2 separate regions of the Homo sapiens genome follow, and region 2 is linked to region 1. The links come from fine-mapping of genetic effects on gene expression. A gene starts in region 1. The other region holds a variant in brackets. All regions are shown on one strand. Distances are between the middles of the regions. Region 1 holds the start of UQCRC2 (ubiquinol-cytochrome c reductase core protein 2). Region 2 overlaps UQCRC2 (ubiquinol-cytochrome c reductase core protein 2).

The links. PIP is the estimated chance that this variant, and not a neighbour inherited with it, causes the effect. A credible set is the group of variants that fine-mapping cannot tell apart.
Region 2: its variant is the best candidate, but not a certain one, in a credible set for the expression of UQCRC2 in whole blood (INTERVAL, PIP 0.62).

Annotation. Positions count from the first base shown.
Region 1 is chr16:21,947,320-21,958,576 of GRCh38, forward strand. It overlaps UQCRC2 (ubiquinol-cytochrome c reductase core protein 2), which reads left to right and starts at 6,042. Exons shown (of 14, transcript NM_003366.4): 1 at 6,042-6,137; 2 at 9,916-9,999; 3 at 10,098-10,247; 4 at 11,216-11,257. The coding sequence starts at 6,105. It also overlaps a transcript of PDZD9 not described here. RefSeq lists enhancers at 5,375-5,834, 5,923-6,640, 6,155-6,324, 6,335-6,384.
Region 2 is chr16:21,973,521-21,984,777 of GRCh38, forward strand. UQCRC2 (ubiquinol-cytochrome c reductase core protein 2) reads left to right here. Exons shown (of 14, transcript NM_003366.4): 11 at 376-456; 12 at 2,647-2,723; 13 at 7,027-7,180; 14 at 9,568-10,140. The coding sequence ends at 9,651. PDZD9 (PDZ domain containing 9) reads right to left here. Exons shown (of 4, transcript NM_001363519.1): 4 at 10,345-11,140. The coding sequence ends at 10,747. It also overlaps the pseudogene LOC100420644. Among named protein-coding and RNA genes, the nearest start is that of PDZD9, 22 kb to the right of the region's middle. The variant CAG/C (reference allele first, on the strand shown) is at 6,608.

The DNA.
Region 1 (11,257 bases):
AGGATTGCTAAAGCAGCTAGAATTTGAAGAGCAGGGTGATGATAAAGACGAAGCGGGGGCCCAGAAATTTGAATGGGGTTTGCTGTGAGTCATGAGCTGGCCTGTGCCATGTGCAAAGGGAGAGATGCTGTGAGGCCTATCAGAGAATGGCACCTGCTAGACTGAGAACTGAATGTGTTACCGGTGGACGATATCTGAGTTACTGGCGGTGAATCTGTGTACATCTGCAGCTACCTCAATTCTTGCCTCCTCAGAAGAAAGAAATCAACAGAGGGGCATAAGGCAGAAAAAGAGACCAAGGCAAGTTTCAGAGCAGGAGTGGAAGTTTATTTAAAAGGCTTTAGAACAGGATAAAAAAGGAAAGGAAAGTATGCTTGGAAGAGACCCAACCAGGCACTGAGGTCAAGCGCTCTGTTTAACAGTAATCTTTATAGGCTGGCCCCTTTCTCATGATTCTTCCCTTAGGGTGGGCTGCCCGCATGCCTGGTACCCCCCTCACCCGTTGGAGGTGAGCATGCGCAGCGTGTTTAAGAAGTTGTACCCATGCCCATCTGAGACTTTCTTCCCTATTCTGGTGGAGTAACCCTGGAAAGTCATACTCCGCCATTTTGTCTCTTAATGCACATGCCCAGGAAGTTGCTTCTCCCTGGTGTCTGCATTCAATTAACACTGTTAATTTAGTGCAACGGGTGTGGACTATCAGGAAATGGCCTCTCCAATTTATCTTTTTTTTTTTTTTTTTGAGGCAGAATTTCGCTCTTGTTGCCCAGGCTGGAGTGCAGTGGCGCGATCTCGGCTCACCCAAACCTCCGCCTCCTGGGTTCAAGTGATTCTCCTGCCTTAGCCTCCCGAGTAGCTGGGATTACAGGCACCCGCCACCATCCCTGGCTAATTTTGTATCTTTAGTAGAGATGGGGTTTCTCCATGTTGTTCAGGCTGGTCTCAAACTCCCGACCTCAGGTGATCCGCCCGCCTTGGCCTCCCAAAGTGTTGGGATTGCAGGTCTGAGCCACCGCGCCTGGCCCAATTTATCACTTAGAGAGGCAATGTGATAACTGCCAAATCATCACCCGACATTCCTGGTGGATGGGGGGAGAGCCCTCTCCTGTCCCGCTCATACCTGTCTAACTACCTGTAACAAAGGTAGACCCAGAGTTTACATAGTGCAGAAAATGTCGGAATTCTTACTGAGAGCCACAGTAGAGATACCTTACTGAGCACCCCTTACAGTTATAACTCCAGAAAAGCCATGCCTTAGAAGTAAAGATCATGTCCTAGAATAAGATCAAAAACCTAAATAGACCCACCCTAATAAAGAATAAAATAAAAGCCTGACAGAATCAAAGGGAGCACGCAAAATATACGAAAGCTGGGAAAAGACGTTTACTTCTGTGAACCAAAAGTATCTGAGACAGGTCTCAATCAATGTGGAAAGTTTCCATTGCCAAGGTTAAGGATAAGCGCCTGAGAGGTATGTCTATGCCTTTCTCCAAAGATGATTTCAAGGGCTTCAATATTTAAGGAGAAAGGATTGATATGGGTGAAAAGGAAGAAAATTTGAAATCTTAATTCCAGCTCTTTGGGAGGCCAGTCCAGTGGACTGCCTGAGGTCAGGAGTTTGAGACCAGCCTGAGCAACATGGCAAAACCCCATCTCTATCAAAAATACAAAAATTAGCCAGATGTGGTGGCATATGCCTGTGGTCCCAGCTACTCAGGAGACTGAAGTGGGAGGACTACTTGAGCCCAGGAAGTACTGGAAGCACTCAAGCGTGAGTGACAGATCAAGACCGTCTCAAAAAAAAAAAAAAAAAAAGAAAAAATTTAAAAATGTGTGGGTATACAAGAGACAAAGGGTTGCATCCCCTTGAGTCTTTGATCAGCCTTTCACTGAATATACAATTTACATGTGAGAGGATGGGCAGAGGAATACTCACTTATGTCATTGTCTGGCTCAGAGAATCTTCATTTTTTTTACATAATACAATGTAAACAATAGGGCAGAGGAAGCCATCAGATACACATTTGTTTAAGATGGACTTTGAGTTCTGTCCTTTGTCCTGCACCTGTGAAAATAAGCTATCAGGCCTGGTGCGGTGGCTCACACCTGTAATCCCAGCACTTTGGGAGGCCGAGGTGGGTGCATCACCTGAGGTCAGGAGTTCGAGACCAGCCTGGCCAACATAGTGAAACCCTGTCTCTACTAAAAATGCAAAATTAGCCAGGCATCATGGCACATGCCTGTAATCTCAGCTACTCAGGAGGCTGAGGTGGGAAAATCTGCTTGAAACCAGGAGGTGGAGGTTGTAGTGAGCTCAGATCATGCCATTCCACTCCAGCCTGGGCAACAAGAGTGAAACTCTCCAAAAAAAAAAAAAAAAAAAAAAAAAAGAGGGAGGAGGGAGGGAGGAAGGGAGGGAGAGAGAGAAACAGAGAAAGAGAGACAGAGAGAGAGAGAGAAAGGAAAGGAAGAAAAGGAAAGGAAGGAAGGAAGACAGCTATCAATTTACATTGCCAGGGTGAAATTCAACAAAACTGTTTTAGGGTAAAGATCCTCAGATCCACATGGAATTGCCCTGTGGGCAAATTGTAAGGTAAGTTATGTAGCTTTTTATCCTTATAGCTATCTTATTTAGGAATAAAACGGGAGGCAGGTTTGTCTGACATCATTCCCAGCTTGAATTTTCCCTTTGGCTTAGTGATTTGGAGGCCCTGAGATTTTTTTTCCTTTCACACTTCCTAACTCATTTTATCTATGACAGAAAAATGCATGAATGGGGGGAATGAAAGTGAAAGTTAAAGCCAGTATCACTCTGGAACATAAATGCACAAATCCTAAACAAATAAGTAGCAAATTAGGTCTAGCAATATATTAAAAGAATAAAACATCCAGACCAAGTTGGGTTTATAACAGGAATGAAAGGTTTATTTATAATTTGAATCAATCAATATAACTTAACACAGAATAAGACCAATCTGTTCACCTCAATACATGGAAAAAGTATATGTGACCAAAAACAATAATTATAGAATATTAGAAATTGATATGAACTTTTTTTTCCCCCCCGAGACAGAGTCTCGCTGTGTCGCCTAGGCTGGAGTACAATGGCAGTGATCTCGGCTCACTGCAACTTCCGCCTCCCAGGTTCAAGCAATTCTCCCTGCCTCAGCCTCCCGAGTATCTAAGATTTCAGTCAACTGCCACCATGCCCGGCTAATTTTTGTATTTTTTTTTCAGTAGAGACAGGGTTTTGCCACGTTGGCCAGGCTGGTCTTGAACTCCTGACCTCAGGTGATCCACCCACCTTGGCCTCCCATAGTGCTGGGATTACAGGCATGAGCCACTGTGCCTGGCCCAGGGAATATTTCATCAGAGATAATACCTGACAGGGTAGGATTCTGAAAGGAATGGGGAAGGAAATGCCAACATCGAAATTATGCATTGGGGAAGCCATGATTAATGCCTCTGGCCCTAAGATGGCAAGGTAATGTTGTTCCCAAGTATAAACCCACATCACCTTCCTCTGGTGTGTTTTACTCCTACTGTTGCCTGCTTTCTCTTTACATTCTCCCACCCCATACTCACCGCGAGCGCTCAGGCTAGGTAGTTAGGCTCCATAGAGTCAAATTGGACCCCACATTAACGAAACTAACAATTCGAGCTTTCCAGCAATGAACTCATCTGCTCTTCCATGTCTACTCTTTTCCTGTCTGCTGGTTTCCTCTCCCAGGGCTTTCAGTGTGTTCTACGCAGAAACCAGTTCAAGGACTGGGTTTTCTTCTGCAATAAAATGCTGGAGTTGTGGCAGAGACCTCCACAGTGAGAACAGCCACGGAGTTGGCTAGGAGGTGACATGATGTGGAAGTGGTGGATGTGTCCACAAGATGGCACTCCTAATTTGTAGCTTAATGCTTAATAGGACATTTTGCAATTGACAAACTTGGGATTTTATGATTTATGTAGCTGATATCATGAATTATGTTTCAAATCCTGCCACATTTTGAACAGAATTTATTTTTGCCCCTTTCTGATATTGGGTCATAACCTAAGAATGAGAGGACATTATAAGCAGGTGTGGGTGTGTGTGTGTGTGTGTGTGTGTGTGCACTTGAGTGTGGAGACTTTTGTGTTCCTCCTACCTGACCTGAACTGTTGAATGATGAAGTTACAATGATTGGACTCAGGGGTGCAGCTAGCTAACTTGGGAATTGGGGTTTTGAAGTACTGGAGACAGCTTTGTATGCCATGTTAATGAATTTGAATTTTATCCTGAAAAACGTGGCTGTCGTTGAAGAATTTTAAGCAGGCAGGTGGCTTGATCAGAGCACTGCTTCCCAGATTTCACTCAATGGTACCTGTATAACACATTCATGATTTTTGCTGTATCTCCGTATCATCAAGTTACTTAACGTTTTTACACCAACTTTTATTATTTTATAAATGTACTTAAAGAGGAAATTCACTACTAGCATTGCTTGCCATAATCAAAATAAATATATTATTAAAATGGAACAGTGCTAAATAAGGTGTACACATGGACATAGAGTGTGGAATGACAGACAATGGAGACTCCGAAAGGTGGAGGGGTGGGAGAGAGGTGAACGATGAGAAAGTACTTAATGGGTACCATGTACATTATTCGGGTGATGGGTACACTAAAAGCCCAGACTTCACCATTACTGCAATATATCCATATAACATAACTGTACTTGCGCCCCTTAAATTTATACAAATTTTTAAAAGGAAAAAATGGAAGTGTTCATCTATGTACCAACTTAAAATCATCTCACGCACCACTAGTGTTAAATCTACCACATGTGGGGAAACTGTGTGGTATGAATTGGGTTGAGGGCGTCCCCAGCAGGCACAGAAATTGGGTTGGTGCCAGGTTCTTAATGCCCAGATCTTAATTAGAGAGCCCAAGTCCGTTGTAGGCCTGGAGCAATTCAGACACAAGGCAAAAAGAAAGTACATTTGCCTATGCCTTGTAACGTCTACACCACCAGCCTTTCTGAAACTATTGTGCATACGAAGTCATCCCAGGATCTTGTAAAAACACCGATTCGGATCCAATATGGGACCTGGAGTTCATACATTTCTAATCAACTCCTAAATGATATTGATGCTGATACTGTCGGTTTCCCAACCAAGCAACGTAGCAAGGTACGAAACTCTAAAGTCCCTAAAGGGCAGGGACCACGCCTCTCGCGTTGGCATAGTGCCTAGCTCAAGGCACTTTCTGGGTTAACACTCGCTGAGGACCGGAGTGAACGCCCCCGCCCCAAGTCGTCACGTGACTGACTTTCTCCAACTGCCGGTTTCGGCTCACATAACACACCTACTATCCAAAACATTTCTATTTTCCTAACACAAAAACTATAGCTAAGTTTTTATATTCTATGTAGCCCCAGCCTAGGACGTAAATTCCACGAGACCAAAAGCCTTGTGATGATTCCCCGAGGTTGCTGACCCTCCCGGTGTGTCCCGGGCCTGCTCTGGGGGACACAGCGGCGAATACGTTGAACGAGGCCCCTGTTTCACGGAGCTAAAGATCCAGTAAGGACTTCACCCAGCGAGAGGCAACTACGCCGGGCTTCGATACCCAATACCTCTGCAGAAAGGTGGAGTGGCAGGAATCTCCTGAAGCCTCCAACGTCCAGGAACGCGGAAACCCAGGGCCTCCAGTGCAGGTGTCATCCCGGAGGGCGCATGCGGAGTCCCAAGAGAGGCGCGTCCCATTGGACAATGCTGAGCGGAAGAGCCCAAGATAGCGGGGGGAGTTGTGACAGGCTGCTGCAGACGTACTTAGAAAAGGGGTGCATACTGGATATTCAGGCTAGGAGAAGAACGCAAAAAGCAGTGACGTACATTATTCTCTGCATATATTTACTTGGGAAATTGTGCGTCTCCCTATTCTGAGTCTTGGAGGAATTGGACTGGTCCAACCTTATAAAGAGAGCAGTAGAGCGCGGCAGTATAGAGAGTACCTCACGAAGGGGACGTGGGAAAGTGTTAGCGGGGAACGCTGGGAAACTCCCGGCCTCCGCCACCATCTTGCTTTCCTTTAATCCGGCAGTGACCGTGTGTCAGAACAATCTTGAATCATGAAGCTACTAACCAGAGCCGGCTCTTTCTCGGTGAGCTCAGGTGGCGGGTTTGGGAAAGGGCTGGGGAGCAGTGTGTCGACAAGGTGATACGAGGCGGAGGTGTCTGGTCTGGGGTCTGGGCCTTGGGATTCGGTCTGCCCTTCAGCTGAACCCTGCGGGCCAAGTGGGCTGCAGACTGGGTCAGGCTTTGGAGGCCCAGCTCATGCTGTGAGCACAAGAGACCTAACACCGGGAAACCTGAAGAGAGGGGCAGGACGTGAGAGCGGAGTTGAAGCGAGTCCTTGGAGAGACTTCTGAAGGTCACTCCGGTACTCAAGTGCTGGAGAAAGAGACCGTGAAACCCAGGGGGAGCGGGAGGACGGCGCACTTAGCCCCCCACCTTCACTTTATCCGCTGCAGCCTCTGCTCCTTGGTTTATCACGGAGCGTCAGTTTCCCCAGCGAATAAAAGTATAAGAAAGGAGCTAATGCAGATAGAACACTTATTACAGTACCTGGAACTTCATTGTTAAATACTATGGTGTCTTAGTAGTCTAACGTTGCTTTTCTTGATCGTATGTTAGACGGTTCCTCCAAGACGTCTCTGTTTGTCCTCAAAAGCTCCTTAATTAAGTTTCCCCTTCAAGCCTAAATTAAACATAGCTGTCACTTGGGGAAAACTCACACATCAGGGTTATATCACTGTGGGACAGTGGTTATTAAGAGGGGTAAGGGGGAACACTTAAAAAATCATAGCGAGGGACAGAATGCCCCCAGGGAACCGGTGGCGATGTTTGGAGACATATTTAGTTGCAACAACTTGTAAGGAGGGTGCTATTGGCATGGAGAGGCCAGGGATGCTGCTAAACTTCGCCTTACAGCAAAGAATTATCTAGCCCCAAGTGCCAGTAGTAGTACCTGTGTTGAGAAACCCCCCTAGATGGAGATGCAGAAGACCAGACCTGGGCATGGAATGTTCTTATGCTTTATGTTTACATAAATGTGCTGTGGGCTATATCGATTTAGGCTGTAATTGCATTAACCTTCCAGGTATACCTAGACACACCAGTGATTACCCTTGGAGGGAAGCACGGTTAGATTGGCAAAAGACCCCAACATTTCCTTCTCCATTCTATTTTGCAACAGAAAAAGCTCAGAGAAAACAGTTGGAGAGGCCCAAAGTAAACAAATTGCAGTAAACTTGAAAGCAATTATTTATGTGTCTAATTTTAGCACTTTATATAGGAGAATAAACTTAGATATATCTTGTTATTAGAACAAAATAATTTAGAAGATTGCATGACAGTTACTAGGATAATTTGCTGATTTGAATGGGACGATTAAGAAGCACATTACCGGCGGAGCGCGATGGCTCACACCTGTAATCCTAGCACTTTGGGAGTCAGAGGCAGGCGGATCACTTGAGATGAGGAGTTCGAAACCAGTCTGGCCATCATGGTGAAACCCCGTCTCTACTAAAAATACAAAAAAAAAAAAAATAGCCGGGCGTGGTGGTGGTGGGCGCCTCTAATCCCAGCTACTCAGGAGGCTGAGGCAGGAGAATCTCTTGAACCCAGGAGGCGGAGGTTGCAGTGAGCCGAGATCGCACCGCTGCACTCCAGCCTAGACGACAGAGCGAGACTCCGTCTCAAAAAAAAAAAAAAAAAAAAATTACCAACAAAGAGTTACTATTTGGGCACATTTGGTTGGAAAACACCTAAAATCTCACTTGGTAACGGAATTATAGATTATTCATATTTGAATTGCTATGCCCATATATCTTAAAAGTTTACTTTTTGGAAAATTATAGGCCAAAATTACAAAGAAGGTTAACTATACCATACCCAGCAAACTAAATTGATGACGATAAAGTAAAGCTAATTGTAATTCATAACTGAAAAGCAGTACTAAAAGCAAGTGATAACCAGCAGCCAACCTAGTACAGCACTAATGATGTACAACAAACAGCCTTCTGGACAGCACAGAGTGGAGGCATTGCAGACTGTGCAGGGATGTCCGGGAAACTCCAGTGAGGAGGTGTTCATTGGGTCTTGGGAGCACCAAATTTTATTCACTCATCATCTCCTCTAATAACCTCATGAACTTTAGTCATAATCAGAATGATTTGTATGGCATTGTATAACATTTGCCAAAACAAACTGAATAAAATGAATGCATTTTGGGTCCATTATCTAATATTTAATGGGACCCTTTCACCCTACCAGTAACTGCATTTTATATATTGAGAATCTGATGTGGATGAAGCCATTATTAATCTCAGGATGACATACATGTCATAAATGTTTTATTTAGTCAAAAAAACTAAGACCTTTGGTTGTGTGGTCTTAATACAGCACACAAGAGTGAAGATACAATGGAAAATATTGAGGGCTTGGAGGAAGTTGGTATATACTTTGTCTTTTTCTTTTTTTTTTCTTGAGACGGAGTTTTGCTCTTGTTGCCCAGGCTAGACTGCAATGGCACAATCTCGGCTCACTGCAACCTCCGCCTCCCGGATTCAAGTGATTCTCCTGCCTCAGCCTCCCCAGTAGCTGGGATTACAGGCATGCATCACCACGCCCCGCTTATTTTGTGTTTTTATTAGAGATGGGGTTTCTCCATGTTTGTCAGGCTAGTCTCGAGCTCCTGACCTCAGGTGATCCGCCCACCTTGGCCTCCCAAAGTGCTGGGATTACAGGCGTGAGCCACCGCACCCGGCTAGTTTGTCTTTTTTAAAGGTTACTAAGATGATTAAGGAGATGAAACCATTTCAATTGGAAATTAGACTGAACGGATGACATTCATTGGGCAGATAAAAGAAGCAAGAAGCTGAAACCTATAAAAGGTTGTGGACACAGGCCAGGTGTGGTGGCTCCCACCTGTAATTCTAGCACTTTGTGAGGCCGAGGCGGGTGGATTGCCTGAGCTCAGGAGTTTGAGACCAGCCTGAGCTATGGGGTGAAACGCCATCTCTACTAAAATACAAAAAATTAGCCAGGCGTGGCAGCATGTACCTGTAATCCCAGCTACTTGGGAGGCTGAGACAGGAGAATCGCTTGAATCCAGGAGGCAGACATTGCAATGACCCGAGATCGCACTGTTGCACTCCAGCGTGGGACACAGAGCACGACTCCAACTCAACAAAAAAGGTTGTGGATGGGGTGATCTGACACTTTTTCAAAAAATGCCAAAGCTTTAGAACTACACAGAACCATGAAACTTTTATAAGGTAACTGAAAGATAAGAAAATACAGTGATTCTTTACATCATTTAAAAAATAAGCATCAAGAACTCTATAAATCACTAATAAATAGAGGTTTAAGAATGGCTTGGGTAAACTGGTGGGTTAGTAAGTCCATAATAAGTTATGCAGCTAGGCGGGGTGCAGTGGCTCACGCCTGTAATTCCAACACTTTGGGAGACCAAGGTGGGCAGATCACTTAAGATCAGGAGTTCAAGACCAGCTTGGCCAACACAGTGAAACCCCATCTCTACTAAAAAATACAAAACAAAAACTAGCTGGACATGGTGGCACGCACCTGTAATTCCAGCTATTTGGGAGGCTAAGGCAGGAGAATGGCTTGAACCCAGGAGGTAGAGGTTGCAGTGAGCTGAGATTGCGCCACTGCACTCCAGCCTGAGCGACAGAGAGACACTCTGTCTCAAAAAAAAAAAAAAAATGTTATGCAGGTAAATCCTCCCATGGAGGTGGTTATTGCTCCTTCCACCCCCGAACACCCTCTGTCGCTTGGGTACCCTAAGATACCATGCTTTTATATAAAGCACTGTTCTTGTGAGAAATACGTGTAACCTGTGTTTTTTATGTTTAGAGATTTTATTCCCTCAAAGTTGCCCCCAAAGTTAAAGCCACAGCTGCGCCTGCAGGAGCACCGCCACAACCTCAGGACCTTGAGGTTAGTCCCACTAACTTGCTCGCTGGAAGCTATACATGCCTTACTCTCCTTGGTAATACGAAGACATTCATTATATCTCTACTTTATTTTAAATACAGTTTACCAAGTTACCAAATGGCTTGGTGATTGCTTCTTTGGAAAACTATTCTCCTGTATCAAGAATTGGTTTGTTCATTAAAGCAGGCAGTAGATATGAGGACTTCAGCAATTTAGGAACCACCCATTTGCTGCGTCTTACATCCAGTCTGGTGAGTATCTTCACTTCCTCAAGTGTTTGGAAATGCTGTGGTATCTTGGTCCTGTGAAAAAGAAAAACTAAGATCAATGTCTTTATATTTTGATTCCTTGACCTGCCATAACAAATTACCACGGACTGGGTAGCTTAAACCAAATAAGTTTATCCTGTTACAGTTCTAGAGGCTAGAAGTCCAAGTCAAGGTGTCTAAGCCAAGCCAAGATATCAGCAGGGCTGTGATCCCTCTAAAGGTTCTAGGAAGGCACAAATCCTCCCCTGCCTGTTCCTAGCTTCCAGCAGTTGCCCACAACCCTTCATGTTCCTTGACCTGCAACTGCATCACTGCAGTCTCTGCCTTTGTTGTCACATGGCCTTCCTTCTGTCTGTGTCCACATTTCCTCCTGATAAGGATACCAGTTACATTAGATTTAGTGCCCACTATAATTCAATATGATGTCATCTTAAGTACTTAAATCTGCAGAGACCTTATTACCAAATAAAGTAACATGCAAATATTCTGGCTGGACATAAATTTGGGGGGGAACACTGTTAAACCCAGTACTGTCCCCTAATGTAAAATGAGAAACCACAAGATATTTGCCACAGAGAAGCACTAAATTAGTATCCATATGAATGTTGATGTTAGAGCATAAGAAATCAGTAAACAAATTTTTAACAGGAAGTGCCGCAAATTGAAAGAAAATTAACTCTTTTTTTCCCATATACAAGTCTCTTTCAGAATAGACTAATGAATCCAGTAAGCTTGTATTTGACAGTGGAAATTTTACATGAATGTACTTAATGTAAAAATGTATACTTAAGCTTTTTGTTGAGCCTTGTTTTATAATTCTTAACTAAAAAGGATGCAGGAATTTAGTAAAATTCTTTTTAAATCTGCTCACAACAGATTTTGATATAGTGTGATGTTTGGCAAACTTGGCATTGAAAAGCTACAAAGATAATCATTCTTTCTTTTTCAAGACGACAAAAGGAGCTTCATCTTTCAAGATAACCCGTGGAATT
Region 2 (11,257 bases), 26 kb after region 1:
AAGTCCCTACCAACAGCAGAGAGAAGAAACCTGGTCTGCCTAATGCCAAAGCCTATCTATATTATAATAATAATGTTTGCAGATTAGTGTTTGCATAAACCTTTAATCATCTAAAGCAGGTTAGAAAATACCCAGCATAAAGGAAAGGGAGCAGTCATTTTAGAAATATTTAAATGAAAAAACAAAGCCGTGATAGTTCTGAAAGAGGTAACCTATTTACAGAATACTTCAGTTCGTGACAGAACTGGCTAAGTAAAATATTAATCTATTTTGTTTATACCGTGAAGGTCCAAGTTTTTTCTAGGCAAACTTAAAGAAATCGTGCCCTGTTTTACTTGGTAGAATATCATACAGTAAAGTCTCATTATCTTTCAGGTTTCTGCATTTAATGCCAGTTACTCAGATTCTGGACTCTTTGGGATTTATACTATCTCCCAGGCCACAGCTGCTGGAGATGTAAGTTGCAAACTCACCAAACTTCTTTCATGAACAAGTTATTTCTCCCCCCCGCCATAAACATGTTTTCGGTTAAAATATGGAATGTTTGAATGCAGTGCAATGACTTATCAGAGCTCTGTATAGTATGATGTCATTGAAGCATTATCTGCTATAGGGAAATTTACACATGTATACTAATGCTTCCAGGAAAGAGGAGAGAATTGCCTCCTTCATGTTTTGGTTCTGGTTGGACAAGTTGCATTGAGTTGGCTCTGAGACATCTAAATTGAGAACCCAGGAGAGGGGAAGACCAGGAGGTTTATTTGCAAGTCTTCAGTGTAGAGATTGTGTTGAAATCAGGGATATGTGTGAATGATTGTAGGAAAAGAAAACTAAAGCTCAATTTCTGGGAAACAACACCATTTAAGGAGCAAGTGGCTAAGAAAAATGGCCCAGGTAAACAGAAAGAAAAAGAGAAGCTGATATATTTGAAGGATAGGAAAGAGAGTATGTTTAACACCATTTTGACCCACAGTGAAATAACATTCATTACCACTGAGAAGTCTGGTAGTTTCAGCAAGCTAGGACATCATGGGTGATCTTAACAGTTTTGACTAGAGTAGTGGAAATTGGGTAAAATGTGTAGTGATTAAGGAATGAATGACAAGTAAGAAATGAGAGGTTGGTGTGGGCTAGTGGAGCTTAGACATTCAAGGAGCAAGTTGTTTTAGGAGAGTTTACACTGAGAGATTAGGTTGAAAGAGACATACTGAGCAAAAAGATCGGAGCAGATATCGGAGATAGAAAATTATAAATGGCTCAAGTCTGAGAAAGGAATACTTGGGATCCAGCACACAAGTGGACCTTTTAGCCTTACAGACAGGCTAATATTGGAAGATATTGGGAAGATGGGGAAGTACCTCCTCAGTGAGACAGGAGGCTAAGTCATGTTTTGACAGACGTGAGAGGAAAGTTTAAAGAAAGTAGTGAAGTTTGGGACAGACAAATAGTGAGGTACACAAAAAGTGGGTATTCGCTGTAGTGTAGATGTATCCTTGAAATCAGCGACCACAAATTCATAGTACAGTCAGTCAGCACTGTCATGTAATTTTTCTTCAGTTGCATTCAGAAGCCTAATAGAGAAATGGAGGAGGTAGGTATTAGGGTTAATCCCAGGTTGGAATCCTGCAAAGTGGGCAGGTGAGAAGTATGAGGAGATAGCAAGGGAGTTGGGAGCATTGGCAAGAGTGATTAAAAGGATGATTCAGGGATCTAGGCTCAATAGAGAAGTGAAGCCAGAGGGGGCCTGATAAATTGAAAGACTGGACAAGTCAAGGAACTAGAGATCTTGATAAAGTGGAAGAATAAGGATAGTGAGATTAAAGACTGAGGTCGGGGTCTTAGAATTGAGGGCTTCAGAGGTATGCAAATTTAGGCTATGATCAGGTCTGGGGTGTGGCTCTGAAAATGGGCAGCTAAAATGAAGGGGAAACAGAGGTCCTAGAATTTAGGTGATCAGAGGGAAAAATAAGTAGCAGACCCAGCCAGCACTGGGATGGAGAAAATCATGGTCAGATTTATTTATTTATTCAACAAATATTTACCAAGTACCCACATCCCCGGAACTTTATTCTTTCTTTCTTTTTTTAAATACCATACAAGGATTCAGATTCCTTCTTGACCCTGGCTTACAAAGTATGGACAAGCCTTACAAATTGGCTGTGTATGGATTACTACTCTCTTCTTAGTGAATAGTAAGAGATAGCAGTATTAATGGCATGACACTGCAAGAGTCTGGGGAAGTTTTAAAGGTGCTTATTCTTTATGGGTGATTAGAAATCCATGTGTTTGGCCGGGTGTGGTGGCTCACACCTATAATCCCAACACTTTGGGAGGTTAAGGTGGGAGGATCACTTGAGCCCACACATCTCTACAAAAAAAGCTAAAAAATTAGCCAGGCCTGGTAGCATGCACCTGTAGTCCCAGCTTCTTGGGAGGCTGGGGCAGGAGGATTGTGTATAAACAGCTGCTTTATGAACATAGGAAGAATAAGGAACCCATAGTGATGACAGCATTCCGCATGGACACTGTGCTGTTTGTCTGGAACTAACCTTCCATCTGTGTTTTTGCCTCAGTAAAGAAGTGTGTCAGTGCTGCAGGAGACTCTGGTACTGACCACAGATGACCAACTTTTCTTATCTGTCCTAGGTTATCAAGGCTGCCTATAATCAAGTAAAAACAATAGCTCAAGGAAACCTTTCCAACACAGATGTCCAAGCTGCCAAGTAAGTCTCAGTATTAACTGTGTTTTATGTTTTTGTTATTTGAAAGTTGTATTCTTTTCAGATTATAACAATATTACAATCTATGCTCATAAGGACTGAGAAGTACAGAAAAGCGTAAAAAGGGAAACATACCCATATCCTACCACCTAAAGATATAATTGTTAACATTTTGGCCAGGCACAGTGGCTCACTAATCCCAGCACTTTGGGAGGCCAAGGCAGGTGGTTCATTTGAGACCAGGAGTTTGAGACCAGCTTGGGCAACATAGCAAGACCTCGTCTCCACCAAAATTAGAGAATAATTGTTAACATTTTTCTTAGTTTATTGATCATGCATTTTTAAACATAATTGTTAATATTGTATATATAGATGCTGCTTGACTTACACTGGGGTTACGTCCTGAGAAATGCGCATATCGAAAATGCATTTAATACCCTAATAACCCAGTCATCCAGCCAAACAAACATAAGTCAAACCATCATAAGTTAAGTTAGGGACCATCTGTATACTTTTTTATCTTATTTAAATAGCATCCTTATTATAGAAGTTTGAAAATTACAAATAAAAGACAAAAATGATCTCTGATTTCCCTAGCAATGATTCTGTTTCCATTGATTCAAATTACTAAAAATTTAAACAATATTCATTGGTGTGTCAAAATACACTTGTGCATTTTCTGCAGTTATAAAGATATCTTTGGGCTTAAAATATTTTTGTGTTTCGTATTACTTTCTTGGTGTAGATTCCCAACTAAGTTAAGAGTTATAAACATAACGAAAGACTCCATGTTAGAGTGTGTGTATGTGTGTATGTTTAAATAATACATTTGACTAGGCGCAGTTGCTCATACCTGTAATCCCAGGACTTTGGGAGGCTGGGGCAGGAGGATCACTTGAGGCCAGGAGTTCAACCAGCCTGGGTAATGTGGCAAGACACTGTCTTTACAAAAAGATATTTAAAACTAGCCAGGTGTGGTAGTGTGTGCCTGTAGCCTCAGCTACTCAGGAGGCTGAAGAGGGGGGATTGCTTGAGCCCACGAGTTTGAGGCTGCAGTGAACTAAGATCACGCCATTGCACACTAGCCTGGGCAACAGAGCAAGACCCTGTCTCTTAAAAAAAAAAAATGTATTTCTAAGTCACAAATCTAAAGAGATTGTACCAGTTTATAATCATACCACCAGTATATAAGAGTACCTATTCTACAATAGTTTCTTTCTTCATAACTAATTTATACCCAAAAAAGATCTGATTTTGTTTTGTTTTATAAGAAAGACTAAAATACTTGTCTGCTATTTGGCAATTTATAAATCCCCACTGTCCAGATTGAAAGTGCTATCAACACTCCTAATTCATTAGTAGTTCGAGGGTTTCTCTAAAAGAGACAGACTTGGGACAAAGTTGGAAATCAACCTGCATTTTCATACAGCCGCTTAAGACATTTAAGTTTGACTCCATCTACTTAGAACAATTCAAAATGTGAATCTTGCAACTCCAGTGGTCGTTATGATCATTTAGTATTGCCCACAGGGGAAGCAGAATTACAACCCAGGATGGAACAACCTTTTGGTCATTTCTGTTCCCATTAGTATTGTTAGTTTTGTTATGCTGAGCACACTACAAAGTTGCATCTCTTGTATAAGTACAACACAATTTATTAAATATTGTATACATAGAACCAAGAATCGATAGGATGCAGGGCTGCTTGATTGTACCAGAAACAAAACATGATGAGAATACATTGAAACACTGGATTTACTTAAGAAAAACCTAAGTTTTTCAAATCTAATTTATTTAAGAAAACGTATTTTCTTAATAAGTGTAACACAGTTCTTACAAGGTATGGTAATAAGCAGAAAGTAGAATTTTGAATATTAATGTCAAAGTATGTTTTCTGCCATTTTGATGGAGTTGATACTTTTTCTTGTAAGTTCTTCCTGTAGTGAAAGAGAGAAAGTGAGGTGTCATTGCCGAAAGGACACACTAATAACCTCTTGGTAGTTTATTGCAGGTAAAATCATTTTTTAATTAAGCTGACAACGTGGTAAAACTGCAGCATTAAATTGTAATTATGTTTAAATGGAAGTCTTTCTGTAGAGTGTTAAAGGATGATAAACGTTTGAGGTTCAAATAACTCGACTGTCTTATCAAACACCATGTCTATAAGTAATAAGTTTCTGGGAGAATTGTGAATTGGATTTTGTTTTATTTCAAGTGGATGCTTTTGTGCCCATATTTAAGCTGCCGTTGCTTACAAGACCTGTACTGCCCTTCCCCACCTGCCTTTTCCATCATACCCTATGCTCACAGACAAATCTCAGCAAGAGGCAGGAGTTGCTTCACTAATCAAAACCTTACATTAAAATAGTTTTACCTAGATCTAAGTTCTAGTCCCAAATCAAAAAGCAATCTGTGGAGTTTTCAGTATAATTTCGTACTGACAGCTTTCCAAATAGTAACGTAAACGGTTCACGTACTTGGTGAACTGAAGAAATAGAATGGAGGCCATTAGCACTGTAAGTTGTTAGTTTGCCTGTTTACCAAAAATATGTTGAGTTTCGGGGCACATACCTTAAAATTGCCCTGTTTCACTGTGTAAGAGGAACTGGCTTGACTACTTCACCCTTGGTGAAAACAAACAGGCCCTAAAAGAGGCAGCAACAGCTGAAGTGGATATCACAGAAATAAACAGACAGCAGAAGCTCTTCAGACACCCCCGAAACCTGCCAAAACTCACAGGTAATACAAGTGAAACGATAGCATAAGAAGAAAATAAACATGAGAATCTTCAAACTACAAGCATTGAACGGTATCCTCCATCCAAGAAGAGAACCCACTTCATACAAGGAAAAGGCAAAAGGAAAAGGTCAAGACTGTGACCTTTATAACACTGTGACCCCAGCTGTGGGCCAGGTGGAGTTGTCTGTGGTGACACCAAGTACAGGCCTGACACCCTGGTTTGACAGAAGGCTCTTCAAGATCCCTGGTCTTCACACTGTAGCAGCCAAAAGGTAGGTTTACAATATACACTGTCCCCAACTTGCCATGGATCAATTATAATTTTTCAACTTGACTATGGAGGAAAACCATCGCAATTTCAGCTTCCAGTCATGGGTCACATAACGATGGGGATACATTCTGAGAAATGTGGTGTTAGGTGGTTTCATCACTGTGTGAACCTCAGTGTTCAGACAAATCTAGATGGTATAGCCTACTACACACATGGGCTCTATGGTATAGTCTATTGCTCTTAGGCTACAAACCTGTATAGCATGTACTATAGTACTGAATACTGTAGGCAGTTATAACACAAAGGTAAGTATTTGTGCATCTAAACATAGGAAAGGTACAGTAAAAATACAGCACAAAAGATAAAAAAATGGTATGCCATTTTTATGGCATAGCTCCTGCTTTCGAGTGAGTCAGTGAGTGAGTGGTGAGTAAATGGGAAGGGCTGGGACATTACTGTGCACTGCTGTAGATACTAAACACTGTAAACATAGGCTACGCTAAATTTATTTTTTTAAAATTGCACTACAACATTATGTTGTCAGTAAGTAATAGGAATCTTTCAGCTCCCTAATAATCTTAACGGGACCACCATCATATATGTGGTCCATCATTGACCAAAAACATCATTATGTAGTACATGACTATACCTTGAATTTCGATCTTTTCCTAGGCTAGTGATATGCAGTACATGAGATAATCAATGCTTCCTTACAAAATGGGCTTATGTTAGAAGACTTTTGCCCAGCTGCAGGCTATTGTAAGTGTTCTGAGCACATATGAGATAACCTGGGCCAAGCTATGATGTTCGATACGTTAGGTGTATTAAATGCACTTTTGACTGCCATCTCAGTGGATGACAGCCTTCTCACTGACAG[CAG/C]AGAGATCTTCCTCACTGTGCCAGTGGGCAGGAGAAAGAGCATGCTGCGACTGGCCAGTGACATGCAGAGGATCCAGATTGCACAACCGGATCCAGAGGCCTTGGGAAGCATTAGGGAGCTCTCCAGCTGTCTCACTCAAATCTGTAGCAGCATATGGACCCACAAATGGAGGCCAAAGTGGGCCCTCAATTGGACACTTTGGCAACCCTGAAGAGACTTCTTCCCTTCAGACTTACTGTTTTAGTATGTTCCAGAGAAGGGAGTGGCATTCTTCTTGGGGAATTCAGGAAGAGGGAGACACGCTGTTACTCTATCCATTAAATAAAGCTTTGATGTTCACAGCCCCCCGCCACCACTCAGAAAAAAAAAATAATTGCCTTGCTCTCTAAAACTGACTTCTGCCTTTTATTGGACAGGAACAAGCTGAAAGCTGGATACCTAATGTCAGTGGAGTCTTCTGAGTGTTTCCTGGAAGAAGTCGGGTCCCAGGCTCTAGTTGCTGGTTCTTACATGCCACCATCCACAGTCCTTCAGCAGATTGATTCAGTGGCTAATGCTGATATCATAAATGTAAGTAAATGAAAACTTAACGATTTAACAACAGAGAACTTAACCTTAATGATCCAATTTCAGAAGGATGCATAAGCGTCCTTGGGCAGTGTATTATTCTTATGTTTGGTGCTCATCTACTTAATGTGGAGGCAGGAGGGCTCATTCCCATAAGATCCGCAACAAGCTTCCCTGTCAGCTCGAGTATATGTATCTTCCTCCTTCAAATAAACTACCATTAGGTTAAACTGTGATGTCAGTAAGAGGGCTGCCATCCACTGAGATGGCAGTCAAAAGTGCATTTAATACACCTAACGTATCAAACGTTAGGTTAAACTAATGGTAGTTTATAAAATGGGCTTATGTTAGATGACTAGAAGTAAAGAAGAGTCAAATATTAGCAGTTTCATATGATCCAACCTAAATAGTGAAGTTTGCTATTTTTCCTCTTCAGTCCTAGCAATATTTCACCATCTAGCATCTTAAGATTTTCTTTACTCTTCTCAGCCTAGGACATTCTCTTGTTCTTGCTAATTTTTTTTTCACATATATTATTGTTCCCTACAATATTGAGCTGTTTTGAGGGCAAGGACTATGTCATGTACTTCTTTGTGTTCCCTGCTGTGCCTAACAAGCACATGACCTACAGAATTAATCCAAAGTAAGTGGGTTTTCCCCATTTTCTACATTAAACTTGCCAACTTGCTTTCTACTGTAGATGTCTCGGCCATCTTCTCACCAACAGGTCTACCTTGTATAGGGACAGTGGGGATAAGAAAAAATAAAAAACTAAGCTGGGTGCAGTGGCTCATTCCTGTAATCCCAGCACTTTGGAAGGCTGAGGTGGGCAGATTGCTTGAGCCCAGGAGTTCAATACCAGACTGGGCAATGTAGCAAAACCCCATCTCTACAAAAAAGTACAAAAATTAGCTAGGCTTGGTGGCATGCGCCTGTAGTCCCAGCTACTCAGGAGCTCATGGGGCTGAGGTGGGAAGGTGGCTTGAGCCTGGGAGGCAGAGGTTGCAGCGAGCCGAGATCATGCCACTGTACTCCAGGCTGGGCAACAGAGTGAGACCCTGTCTCAAATAAAAAAGAGACAAGGCTATTTTAAGATAGTAACCCTGACTTGATTTCACTTCGCCCCAATCGTCATTTCATACTCTTCTTTTTTTTTTTTTTGAGACGGAGTCTTGCTCTGTTGCCCAGGCTGGAGTGCAGTGGCGCGATCTCGGCTCAGTACAACCTCCGCCTCCCGGGTTCACGCCATTTTCCTGCCTCAGCCTTCCTAGTAACTGGGACTACAGGTGCCCACCACCACGGCCGGCTAATTTTTTGTATTTTTAGTAGAGACGGGGTTTTACCATGTTAGCCAGGATGGTCTCGATCTCCTGACCTCGTGATCCACCCGCCTCAGCCTTCCAAAGTGCTGGGATTACAGGTGTGAATCAACGCGCCCAGCCCATTTGGTACTCTTTTAAATGGCTGTCTTCATCTTATATCCTATCATTATGTGCGTCCCAACCCGACTGCTTCCACCACCACCTCTCCTTCATAGTAATAAGATAAGCTGGCCTGACAGAATATGGGGGCTGCTGCTCCACCTACACCTGACTCATGATACTACACTTAACCAGCCTTTGAACTTGGAAGTAGTGGCATAAAGAATCCTCTAGGGTATCAAGTTTTACTTTTAAGTTAACAATCAATGTATTTTTATTGACCCAGACTATTTGCCATTGTAATACCGAAACAGGAAAGTATATCCCTGCCTGAAGCCACACTACTCTATTTGACAGTGTCAGTGTTGTTTTCCTTATCTCTCTTTGAACAGCTACCCTCTTACCAGTGTTGCTCTTGCTTGGTTCATTACACATACAATGGGACTTTCAGAGAAACAGCTAAGCTTTTCCTCCCACACTGTCCCAAATTAAAGCACCAGCCATCTCCTAGTTAATTTTCACAACAGCTATTATAGTAATTGCTGGCTTAGAATGTCCTATCGAAGGCCAGGTTGGTGGCTCACGCCTGTAATCCCAGCACTTTGGGAGGTTAAGGTGAGTGGATCACTTGAGGCTAGGAGTTTGAGACCAGCCTGGCCAACATGGCGAAATCCCGTCTCTACTAAAAATACAAAAATTAGCTGGGCATAGTGATACATGCCTGTAATCCCAGCTCCTTGGGAGGGTGAGGCAGAGAATTGCTTGAACCTGGGAGGCGGAGGCTGCAGTGAGCCAAGATCGCAGCACTGCACTCCACACTGGGTGACAGAGCGAGACTCCACCTCAAAAAAAAAAAAAAAAAAAAGAATGTCCTATCCATAAATTCTTGAAATGACAAAATAAGTTCGCCTGCTTGATGATATATATTTTTATTTTTGTTAATTTTGTCTTTTGTTTGTTTCTTTAAAGGCGGCAAAGAAGTTTGTTTCTGGCCAGAAGTCAATGGCAGCAAGTGGAAATTTGGGACATACACCTTTTGTTGATGAGTTGTAATACTGATGCACACATTACAGGAGAGAGCTGAACGTTCTCTCAGCCCAGAGCAGCAAACACATGAAAGTCAGAAGTCTCTAATATATCATTTGTCTTTTTTCCAGTGAGGTAAAATAAGGCATAAATGCAGGTAATTATTCCCAGCTGACCTAAAGTCAATAAAACATTCTGTTTAAGTGTTTTTCTTACGTTTTTCTCAATGAGTTAATCAACAAGTATTTATTATGTGCTGATATCTTTGTTTTAGATGCTTTAAAGGAGACAGGAATATAATTATTGAGTATAGAAGCATCAGAAACTATTAAAATTAAGGCTAAGTGGCTATCGGGGTAAATAGTGCCAGATTACTATTGGTGGCGTTTAAGATGAAAGCAAGTTCAAAATTTGTCATTTTGGGTGTCAACAGCTAAATGGTCTGGTTTTTACCCCTGTTTTGCCTTTTTTGCAATAAAATTATTTCCAAAAAACATACATTTCCTATCAATCATATCCTATATTCCCATTCATTCATTTTTTTATGTCTGATTTATCTTCATTGACAGAGTTTTGTTTTTCTCTCATCTCCTGTCTCTCCCTTATCTGTTACTATCCTGTCTCTTCCAAATAATTAACTCTCAATTCAACATTTACAGTAAAAGAAGGGCTAAAAAGGGGAAAAAAAAAGAATTCTAATGTGAATAACTAGCCAAAGAATTATGTCTCTTAGTTATTTTAATTATAGTACTTGAAGTTTACCAAAAAAAAGAGAGAAACTAAATATTTAAAGAAAAATGTAGTGTTTACATAAAGTGACATTCTCTACTATGTTCAGACATTCTGATATTGGATTTCTCTACGGCATTTTCTAAAAGAAAGAAATTCTTCTCAAAAAGGAGGGTCTTATTCTGAAAATAAGATTTGTGAGGCCTGCAAGAACCCAAGGAAGTCTTTAGATAATCCTGTTGAAGAACATCTCTAAAGGCTTTATAACGCAGTCATAAGAGAAGAGAATTGGTGAGTCTACAGACAGTCCTTGATAAGTACAGCAAACTTGTGCCTGGTGAGGCACAAAACTTGGGTGTCTGCAAGATAAATGCTCATATGACCACAGATTTGCTAACCAACCTTTGATACCAGTTGGGCTTTACCCTCTTCAACTTGGGCACAATCTTCCAGCCAAAATGCATCTGAGGTAGAGGAGGTAGAGGAGGAAGAGCTTTCATTGTCTTGCTTCACCATTATCCAGTATGGAGAAGGGGCCCTCACTTCTTTCTTGTCGTCTCTGTGAATCATCACGTCACAATTAATGTCTTTTCCTACACTAATAGTATGGTTCTTCTTCTTATATCCATGCCAGTCTCTGGAGATGGATATTGGTCTCCTTGCAGGGTGATGCACAGTTGACCACGGATATCTATAATATTGAAGTCTTTTATCTAAATCTACATTTTCATTATCATCACTGCTTGTGAAAGATTCATCTTTTGCCAGCTCAATTTTCTTTGGTGTGCTGAAATGAAAAGAATAGTGAATAAAATAGATTCTTCATGTCTAAACATTTATGGTCCCCTAACAAGATGCCTTATAACTTGCTTTGACTCATAAAAGATACAATTTAGCTTTAGCA